3 linked regions of the Homo sapiens genome follow. The protein of the gene in region 2 purifies or fractionates together with the protein of the main gene of each other region. This does not show direct contact. Each region holds a gene or a part of one and is shown on either strand. Other genes may lie near its edges.

Region 1 (3,500 bases), on a different chromosome or scaffold from region 2:
AAGTTTTATTGCCAGCAACAGAAAAAGAAACAAGCAGAACGAACAAAGGCTAAATCCTAAAACCAAAGTGGGGAGATCTAGAACGAAGGGGATTTGTACTACACAAGTCTACTGTTGAAGCTTTAGGAAGCTTTTTTTTTTTTTTTGAGATGGAGTCTCACTCTGTTGCCCAAGCTGGATTGCAGTGGCGCAATATCGGCTCACTGCAACCTCTGCCTCCCAGGTTGGAGTGATTCTCCTGCCTCAGCCTCCTAAGTAGCTGGGACTGCAGGCACCCACCACCACATCTGGCTATTTTTTATTTTATTTTATTTTATTTTTTTAGTAGAGGGAGGGTTGAACTCCTGACCTCAGGTGATCCGCCTGCCTCAGCCTCCCAAAGTGCTGGGATTACAAGCGTGAGCCACTACGCCTGGCCCCTTTAGGAACATTTTAATGAAACTGACTTTCAGTAATCCAAATACATATGATCCATTTCCTGAATTCTATTTTGAAAACTAAATACGGCAGCAGCTTCACCCCAACACCATCCACTCTTCCCAAAGACTGTTCAATGTACACTCTAAGAATATATATCCATTTTAATATTATACTGAGAAAATCATTAGGCATGCAGAAGCCCTATCAAAAAAATCAAAATCTATATTTCAATGTCAATTAAAATTTCTCCACCTATTTAAACATTACTCTTAACACTGTCACCTCCCTTTGATACAAAGAACTGAAAAAACAAAATACACCTGATCGTCTTTCCAAAGTTATGCTCATTTTGTAACAGAAGGAACGAGAAGTTATCTATTAGGTTGGTGCAAAAGTAAAAACCACAACTACTTTTGCACCAACCTCTATTAAAGGACAGACTCAGACCAAGGGAACTCTAGGAGACAGAAGATTCTGTTATGATTTTCACCAGAGTTAGTACCGACAAAAAAATGCTATGCTAATTATTCTAAGTCAGGTCTGACACACAAAACCTTTTGAATATGTTCCCATTTGCTGGCTAACATATCACTTTTTCTTTAACTCATCTGGCATCCAAAACAAAAACAGATCTTTTAAGTAAAAATAATCAAAATTTTATACTGGACCTGAATGGCGAGAAGCTGAGCGATCTGGTCATTAGGACTGACGTGATGTGGGACATTTCTAATAACATGTAAAGAGCTGAGCAAAAGACAGCTGAGCTCAAAAACACTGTCTCATTATTTCAGTCTTATATATTTCCAGGTCAAAAACACCAACTTTCCTATAAATAAAACGGCTTTAAGACTACACAATTTGCTAATATGGTCAGCCCCCAGAATCCATTCTGGCCAGTACGCTGTCTACAACCTTGCAAACTAGCACACAGAAGACTGTAGGATAAAACAGCTCCTCTAAATTATCCATGCCACTGCTTCTCTCCATTAATGCACCTGGAAAGCTGACTTTAGGTAACTTTTACCATTCCCTTTTTTTTTTTTGAGAGAGAGAGTCTTGCTGTCGCCCAGGATGGAGTGCAGTGGCGCAATCTTGGCTCACTGCAACCTCCGCCTCCCGGGTTCAAGAAATTCTCCTGTCTCAGCCTCCGAGTAGCTGTGACTACAGGCGCACACCACCACGTCTAATTTTTTTGTATTTTTAGTAGAGACGGGGTTTCACCATATTGGTCAGTCTGGTCTCGAACTCCTGACCTCAGGTGATCCACCCGCCTCAGCCTCCCAAAGTGCTGAGATTATAGGCGTGAGCTACAGCACCCGGCCACTTTTACCATTCCTTTACCCCACCGGTTCAACTTTCTTTTTCTGGAAGAATGAGGCATGTGGGATGTTTAAGGGGTTTGAGATTTTTAAGGTAATTTTTTTAATTTTTTGAGACAGTGTCTCACTATGTCGCCCAGGCTGGAGTGCAATGGCACGATCTTGGCTCACTGCAACCTCTGCCTCCCGTGTTCAAGTGATTCTCCAGCCACAGCCTCCCAAGTAGCTGGGGTTACAGGCACGCACCACCACACCCGGCTCATTTTTGTATTTTTAGTAGAGACAGGGTTTCTCCATGTTGGCCAGGCTGGTCTCGAACGCTTGACCTCAAATGATCCACCCGCCTTGGCCTCCCAAAGTGCTGGGACTACAGGTATGAGCCACCGCGGCTGGCCTGATGCAGATTGTTTCCATATCATCTGTTCTGTAGTAGTTAGGGGGAAAAAAAGCTTTCGAAGGCTGGAGTTCACTTCATGGATGAGTCGGAATTTGATTCTTGAAGGATGAAGAGCATTTCGGTAAGCGGAGAAGGTAGAGGTGAAATATGAGCCCATTGGAAAGTAACTGTGAGATGTTCAGGCATGTGAACTTTGATGACTGCAGACATGGAGAAGTAGAACTAGTTCTAGGCAAGGGCTGTTTATCCTGCTTGTCTGAGGAGTGAGCTGTGGGGAACCTGTTAAGTGGTTGTAATGAAAGCTGAGGGTGAGGAGAATGCAGTGGGGAGGGGCTTGAACTTTACCTGCAGTGCTTCTACTGGCGATTGTTATGTATTTTGTTTTTAAGTTTTAATTTATTTGAGAGTGTGGATATACTTTTTTAATTGAAATATAATTCACTTAACTTAAAAGGTACTGTTTTAGGCCAGGCACAGTGGCTCATGTGCCTGTAATCCCAGCACTTTGGGAGGCCAAAGCAGGAGGATTGCTTGAACCCAGGAGTTTAAGACCGGCCTGGACAACATAGGGAGACCTTGTCTCTACTGAAAAAGAAAAAGAAAAAAATTAGCTGGGCATGGTGGTGTGTACCTGTAGTCCCACCTACTTGGTAGGCTGAGGTGGGAGGCTCGCTTGAGCCCAGGAGTTCAAGGCTGCAATGACCTACGGCTGCATCACTGCACTCCAGCCTGGGCGACAGAGACAGACCCTGTCTCAAAAAATATATATATTGACCGGCCGGGCGCGGTGGCTCAAGCCTGTAATCCCAGCACTGGGAGGCCAAGGCAGGCAGATCACGACGTCAGGAGATCGAGATCATCCTGGCTAACATGGTGAAACCCCGTCTCTAATAAAAATACAAAGCAAAAAAACTTAGCCAGGCGAGGTGGTGGGTGCCTGTAGTCCCACCTACCCAGGAGGCTGAGGCAGGAAAAGGCGTGAACCCGGGAGGCAGAGCTTGCAGAGAGCTGAGATTGCGCCACTGCACTCCAGCCTGGGCGACAGAGCGAGACTCCTTCTCAAAAAAAAAAAAAATTTATATATATATACACACACACACACACACACATATATATATACACACACCAGTTAAAAGAGTGCAATTCAGTGGATTTCAGTATATTCACAAAGTTGCACAAAAATCACCACTATCTAATTCCATAATGTTTTCATCACTCCAAAAAGCAACCACTTACCTCTTAATTGTCACTCTCAATTCTCCTCTCCCTTCATCCCCCTGGCAACTACTTTTTGTGTGGATAAACTTGCCTGTTTCTGGACATTTCGTATAAATAGAATCATACAGCACGTGGCTTTTTGTATC
Region 2 (3,500 bases):
CTTAAAAAAATCTAAAATGAACAAGTTTTTGTTTTTGAGACAGAGTCTTGCTCTGTCACCCAGGCTGATGTGCAGTGGCACAATCTTGACTCAATGCAACCTCTGCCTCCTGGTTCAAGCCATCCTCCCACCTCAGCCTCCTGAGTAGCTGGGACTACAGGTGTGCACCACCACACCTGGCTAATTTTTTGTTATTTTTTGTACAGACGGGGTTTCACCATGTTGCCCAGGGTGGTCTTGAACTCCTGAGCTTAAGTGATCTGCCTGCCTTGGCCTCCCAAAGTGCTGGGATTACAGGTGTGAGACACTGTGACTGGTCAACAAGTTATCTTACGGACCATCTTGTGTACTATGCACATGCTTTCATAAATCTCTAACAAAATTAGTTTTGCATCTTCTAATAACTTAGCTTTGAATTACAGTAGAGACAAAATGCATGCTCAGTGGACTGCCTACAGAGAGTTAAATACTTGTAACGTACCTGGGACTACTTGGGCTATGTAATTCATCAGTCCCACGGGTGGCCTCACTGAGACCAGGGCAGGAGTTATGCACAGCATAGACAGACATGCTGGGATGTTCAATGAGAAGGTTTTCCATAGGACTTGTTTCCACCTTGATAGTGGTTAATCCACCTGCAGTAAAACATGGGGGTGGGGTGATAAACCAGCTCTCCTCCATTGGACATGACTCAAACTGGAGAAAGCAGGAATCACTTGTATCAGCCAAGCACTCAAGAGATGCCGGTAAACAGGAAAAGACTGAAGGGTGCTCAGTAGGTGACTCTTCACTGATGTCCTCCTCTTCTTCTTCTTCTTCTGCTGAGAAACCAGTGCAAGTATCTAGATCGTAGTCCACATTGCAGTCCACATGTGTTGTTGAAGAGTCCCACAGGAGGATGATTATCACATTGGGCAGTCATTATAAAGTCACCCATCAAATTCACAGCACAGAAAAAGAAGAGATGATACTATTAGCTGATGCTCACGTATCTTCTTTTATTTAGTTCAGAAAACCATTTATATTCATCTATATGACTATAAATTTATTTCTGAGCACAGAAATTCTGTGTGTGTGTGTGTGTGTGTGTGTCACTATATGGGATAGATTTATGTTGGCTTTGCAGGAGTGATTTTAAGACTGTTTCTATTCTGCTGGATAACTATGTAATGAGACATATTGGTTACTACTTGTCTAATAAAAGGGGCTTCTAATGAAGTGCCCTTGATCTAATCAATCTGTGAGAGTTGCAAAACTAAAAAGTCTGATGTCAGTCAATTTCACTGACATTATCTAGCACAGATGGTTTCCTGCAATTTTTTAAAGACAAACTCCTGCTTACTTTTAAGGCTGAAAACCCCTCAGTTATTGGTTTCCTTATGCAAAAACTGAGATGCAAGTTTCCATTTTTACTGTGAAGATGAACCACCAAGTAACCAAGTGTACCTTACCTATGAAGTCAACAAGAATCCATTCATCATCTTCTTTCTCATTGAATTCTGGTTCTTGGTTGGAGGAAGAACTGACTTCACCCACAAACATTTTATTCAGCCTCTGGAACATTGTTAAGGCAAGACTGAGAGTTTGGCTGGATGTCTTTTATAGCTGAGATTTCAAAACCTTGTCTTTAGTTGGCCCAATGGTACCGACAGGAGATTAAAGTGCACAGGGTGCTTATTCAACTTAGGTGAAAAGCAAGAAGAGTCATTGTACCTAAAATAAAACAGAAAAAGGAAGTTATTTCAAATCAGCATGCACATATATACATAAGTACATACACATACACACATACCCTTAGAAGAAAGCATATGCCTTGGCCTACATTCTACAGCTATTCCCTTTCTGCAGGAGTCAAACACAAGAAATGCAACATAATGTTTTGTAAATACTCTTACTCAAATTCAACCTATAAATATCTTAAAATGTGAAATAAAAGGGAAAGAGTTGGTTCTTTTTCATATTTATGCTTTTATAATAAGGTGAATTTGAATAATATCCTTCAAACTTTTCTGCAAGCAGATGAGCAAATTCTAGATAGTAACAGTCTTGCTATATGTTATTCAACTGCTCAGAAGTCCCAGCAACAGTGCCTGGTGACCACCATTATGCCAGGCCCTCATCCTCCTCTGGCTCATTTTCTCTTCTACTCTGTACTTCTTGTCTATAACTGTAAGCACACCTGATTACACTTAAAATCTGTAAGCCCAGCAAGCATACTTTGACCTTCTAAACAATTCCTACAGCTGGCATGAAGAAATTTACACTGTAGGAAACTGAGCTTGGCCAAACCTAGAACTGGAAACACCCTTCCTGTGTAGCAGCTCAGCAGGTGGGTGCTGGGTCAGCCACCTGCATTCAAACCCTGGCTAGCTGCTCACTTGCTGTGTGAGTTAGGAAGTTATGTGACTTCAGCTGGCAACAGCTCCTACCTTAGGGAGTTCTGGTGAGTTCTAAATGAAGAACTCCAGGCTTGCTTGATCTTGGAATATTTATCCATTTCTACCTGGCTACCTGATGGGCGTATCAAACCAAACACATACCAAAGATAGGTTTTTTTCCCCCACAAACTTATTCATATACACTGCCCTTCATCCCTTTCTCAGGAAGCAGCAGCAGCTGGCAGTTATTCAGGCCAACACCCTAGCAGTCACCCTTCACGCTTTTTTTTTTTTGAGACGGAGTCTTTGTCTGTTGCCCAGGCTGGAGTGCATGCAGTGAGGCGATCTTGGCTCATTCCAAGCTCTGCCTCCCGGGTTCACGCCATTCTCCTGCCTCAGCCTCCCAAGTAGCTGGGACTACAGGCGCCCACCACCACATCCGGCTAATTTCTTTTTTTTTTATTTAGTGGAGACAGGGTTTCACCATGTTAGCCAGGATGGTCTCGATCTCCTGACCTCATGATCCGCCCACCTCAGCCTCCCAAAGTGCTAGGATTACAGGCGTGAGCTGCCGCACCCGCATGCCTTTTGCTCCCTCCTACTCACCCCTCATCCCAACCACCAAGTCCCGTCAACCCCAGGAGCACAGGCAGCTCGAATCTGCCTGCTTCCATCCACCACTCTCATCCTAGTTTAAGCCAAACTGTTGTCTCTGAGACTTTGCCAAAACTGTCTACTAGACAGTCTCCCTGATCCTACTCTTGTTAAAGGCAATGGACTTAGCAAAATACTTCGAATAAAGTCCTCAGTCCAGGTCAACTATTATTCTACATGTATTTACTGAGCACCTGTTATGCATCAGGTGCAGTGCTGGGCACAGGGGAGATGGCTGTGAACAGGGCCCTCCCACAAGTTTAACAATCCAGTGTGATGAATGCCATGGAAGAAGTATTTGGTGTTCTCCAGGCTACCTGGGTGGACTCCTGCAATGACTTTACTCTTGAGTGGCTGAGGTCAGTAATGGAGGAAGGGGGCAAAGGAACACTATGGAAGCCTGTGGATGAGTGAGAATGTGGCACCTTCAGTACCGCTCAAGGTCCAGAGGGAGGGTCACAATAGCAG
Region 3 (2,837 bases), on a different chromosome or scaffold from region 2:
GACAGATCCCTGATGCAAAATTTTAAATGTGCATGACAGTTTTCTAGAGAGTATTCAGCTTTCTTTGTATTCTCAAAGTGATCCATGTCCCAAAAAGTTAAGAACCACTGATCTTAATTAAAGAGGGTTTGAAAGCAAACTGACTAGATTGACGCTCTGGCCATGGGTTGTGCAAAGAAAGCTTTTTATTTGAGAACACCTAGATACTTTTGGAAATGTTCTTGTTGGATCACAAACAACCTAATTGACAGTCTATCGCCAACATCCACAAACACAGCAAACAGTCCAGTCCTGCAGACCACACAGGGTACATCTAGAGGGTTCTACTTGCATCACCCACACTTCCACTCCTGTGAAACAACTGTCTTGGGCATGAGAAGGGCCAGGATAGGCCAGGTGAATGGCAGGCTGCCCAACAACCCCAATCCCAAACCAACCTCCCAGGCCATGGGCCCAAGTCCCTGCAGGAAGATGCTAATAGGTACAACAGGTAGAACATGTAGACACAAACATCTAGTTTATTTTTTCTGACTGTAACCAAAGTCAGCAAAAGAAACAACAAAACTTCAGTGCCCTAGAAATCCTCCTGGATTCAATGACAACACATCAATGGCCGGGCACAGGGTTGGATTCCTTTTATGAAATCACCTTATAATCTCTCATCATCCCAGGACAGTGCCTTTTGGGACTGCATGAATCTTTAATAGCTACACCACATTTTCTCATCCTTTAAGTTATGACAGACAGGTTATCTCTCTCCAAGAGCATCAGGTTAGATGCTCTTTCACTCTTACAAACTGTCAGGTGGAGGGAGAATCACGACATCATTCATAAATAACTGTGGAGTCTGGGATGCTGGCTGAAGGCATCTCCAGGAAGGACTGGAGGGCGATTTTGCTAAAGGGCTGCTCACTGCTCATTTCACTGCATGCCGCTTTTCTCACTTTGGTTGGGAGTTTGAAGGACCATGTAATCACAGAGATTAGAGCTCCCTGTGAAATCAATCACTGCCTTTAGATCTCCACAAAGACCTGTTCTCCAATAGCACATGCGTTTCTCTGTGAGCTGTATTCGCATCAGCGCCGGAGCCTCAGAAAGAATGCGTGTTTACACTCTGTACTCTCCAATGGGTAATATTTATCATAGAAATCTAATACATATTCTTCAGTCTTGAATCCAAACTTCTGGTACAGTAGCATAGCGGGGTTGCTTGCTGAGACGTGAAGGGTTACGTCCTTGCCCATGCAGGTCTGCCAAAAGAGTGGAAAAATACAAGATAAAAATGGAAAGGCCTGAGGGAAAATGAGTAGGTAAAGAAACGCTTTTAAGTGTAGGCAGTTAGTTATGGAAACCGGAGAAATCAGAGACTGAGGCTGAGACATTGCAACACCTAGCAACAGCTGGAAACAGAATGACATTTTGCTGCTGATCAAAACATTCACAAGACCAAGGAAACTGATAGTATTCTGGGTGTTTTTTATTTTTCTTTGAAGCAAAGGGTCAATGGGGATATTGTTATTGTCAGCTTTATTATTTACAACTCAATTACCTTTAAATATGTCAAACATTTCAATACCTAACACTATGATAACCTTGAATAAATACAAAACAAAATAAGTTTTGCTTTTTAAAACTAGATGTTATCTTGTACCTCCCCAAAACCTGTAAAAATTCCTTTACTAGGCCTGCTAAATTACATGCACAAACATGAAATATTAAGAATGTAATTATAAAACCTGAGGCCCTTGTATAGACCTTCTGAATCCCAAAGTCCACCTTCTGTCTCTCTAAAACTGACAGAATTAGCTTCTTAGAACTGAGATTTCTACATTCAGCTTTGACCTAATCTTAGGGGAAAAGAGTAACAATCATTCTATCAACACAAGGCAAGTCCTTAGATTCTTTAATCAGCTACACAGAGTAAGGTGTCCCAAAAGTCATATCATTTAAGAACTTACTTTTTAATAAAGAAGGCACTGAAATACTGAAGTTGATAGAGTCCTTGAGATTTATAACCCATGGTTCTCTCAGGCCTCTAAGAACTCCTCTGTTGACAGTCATCTGATAGCTACCTGCTTTCTCTGCTTAACTTCCATGTGTATCCATAGGCATTTTTAGGACAAGAGAGCACTTACCAGTATGCCAGGGACAAGAGCACTTTGTGAGTTTTTAAAGCAAATTTTGTGGGGTCATATTGGTGTTTGCTAGATTGCAAATATACGTGATCTCACCGTGGCCATCATTGAGTGCCAGCGACTGTGCGCCACCTATGTTTGGGCCCTCAGGGGTATGGTCTGGCTGGAGGGGAAGGTGCCCACCTGCAAAGATGAACCACTCCTCCAGTGGCCTCGCAAACACTCAGCAGGGACTGACTCTGTACCAGCCCTCATGTTGGGCACCAAGGACACACACACACAAGGACAGAGTACTATTCGTGCCCTGTCTTCAGGCCCTTACCAGTGACAGATACGGCAGCAAATCCTCTAAGTGCTCTCCTAGGTTAAAAAGACGCATACTGAGAGATCAACTCTTGGTTGGGATGGGGCAGAGAAAGGGAGTGTTGTAGAAATAACTGAGAAGCTCTCAAGAGAAAACCACCACCCAAAGTAGCACATATTAATTACTCAGTGAGTGATTTACATAATCACTGCCTAAGGAGAGAAGGAAAGCAATTTCTAGGAAAATGGTTCCAAGGTTCCTGCCAACATTTGGGAATTATTAAGCAAGTTTCATTAAAAATTGGAGAAACAACTTTTATCATCTTCATCTCCTCTTTAAAAGGAATCTTGCCTGCATAAACATATAATCCTCCATACCAAATGGTTTCTAAGTAAAAG

What was found.
Region 1: the proteins of TP53INP1 (region 2) and YEATS2 purify together in Homo sapiens (affinity purification with mass spectrometry; one large-scale study listed by BioGRID and IntAct). This does not show direct contact.
Region 3: the proteins of TP53INP1 (region 2) and KAT14 purify together in Homo sapiens (affinity purification with mass spectrometry; one large-scale study listed by BioGRID and IntAct). This does not show direct contact.

What each region holds. Positions count from the first base shown.
Region 1 is NC_000003.12:183,700,797-183,704,296, reverse strand, and holds part of YEATS2 (YEATS domain-containing protein 2), read right to left. Parts: intron 1-3,500. UniProt on the Homo sapiens protein: Chromatin reader component of the ATAC complex, a complex with histone acetyltransferase activity on histones H3 and H4. YEATS2 specifically recognizes and binds histone H3 crotonylated at 'Lys-27' (H3K27cr).
Region 2 is NC_000008.11:94,939,379-94,942,878, forward strand, and holds part of TP53INP1 (tumor protein p53-inducible nuclear protein 1), read right to left. Parts: intron 1,714-3,500; 5' UTR 1,564-1,713; coding exon 1,452-1,563; intron 843-1,451; coding exon 482-842; intron 1-481. UniProt on the Homo sapiens protein: Antiproliferative and proapoptotic protein involved in cell stress response which acts as a dual regulator of transcription and autophagy. Acts as a positive regulator of autophagy.
Region 3 is NC_000020.11:18,185,699-18,188,535, reverse strand, and holds the end of KAT14 (cysteine-rich protein 2-binding protein), read right to left. Parts: intron 1,251-2,837; coding exon 1,077-1,250; 3' UTR 501-1,076; downstream 1-500. UniProt on the Homo sapiens protein: Component of the ATAC complex, a complex with histone acetyltransferase activity on histones H3 and H4. May function as a scaffold for the ATAC complex to promote ATAC complex stability. Has also weak histone acetyltransferase activity toward histone H4.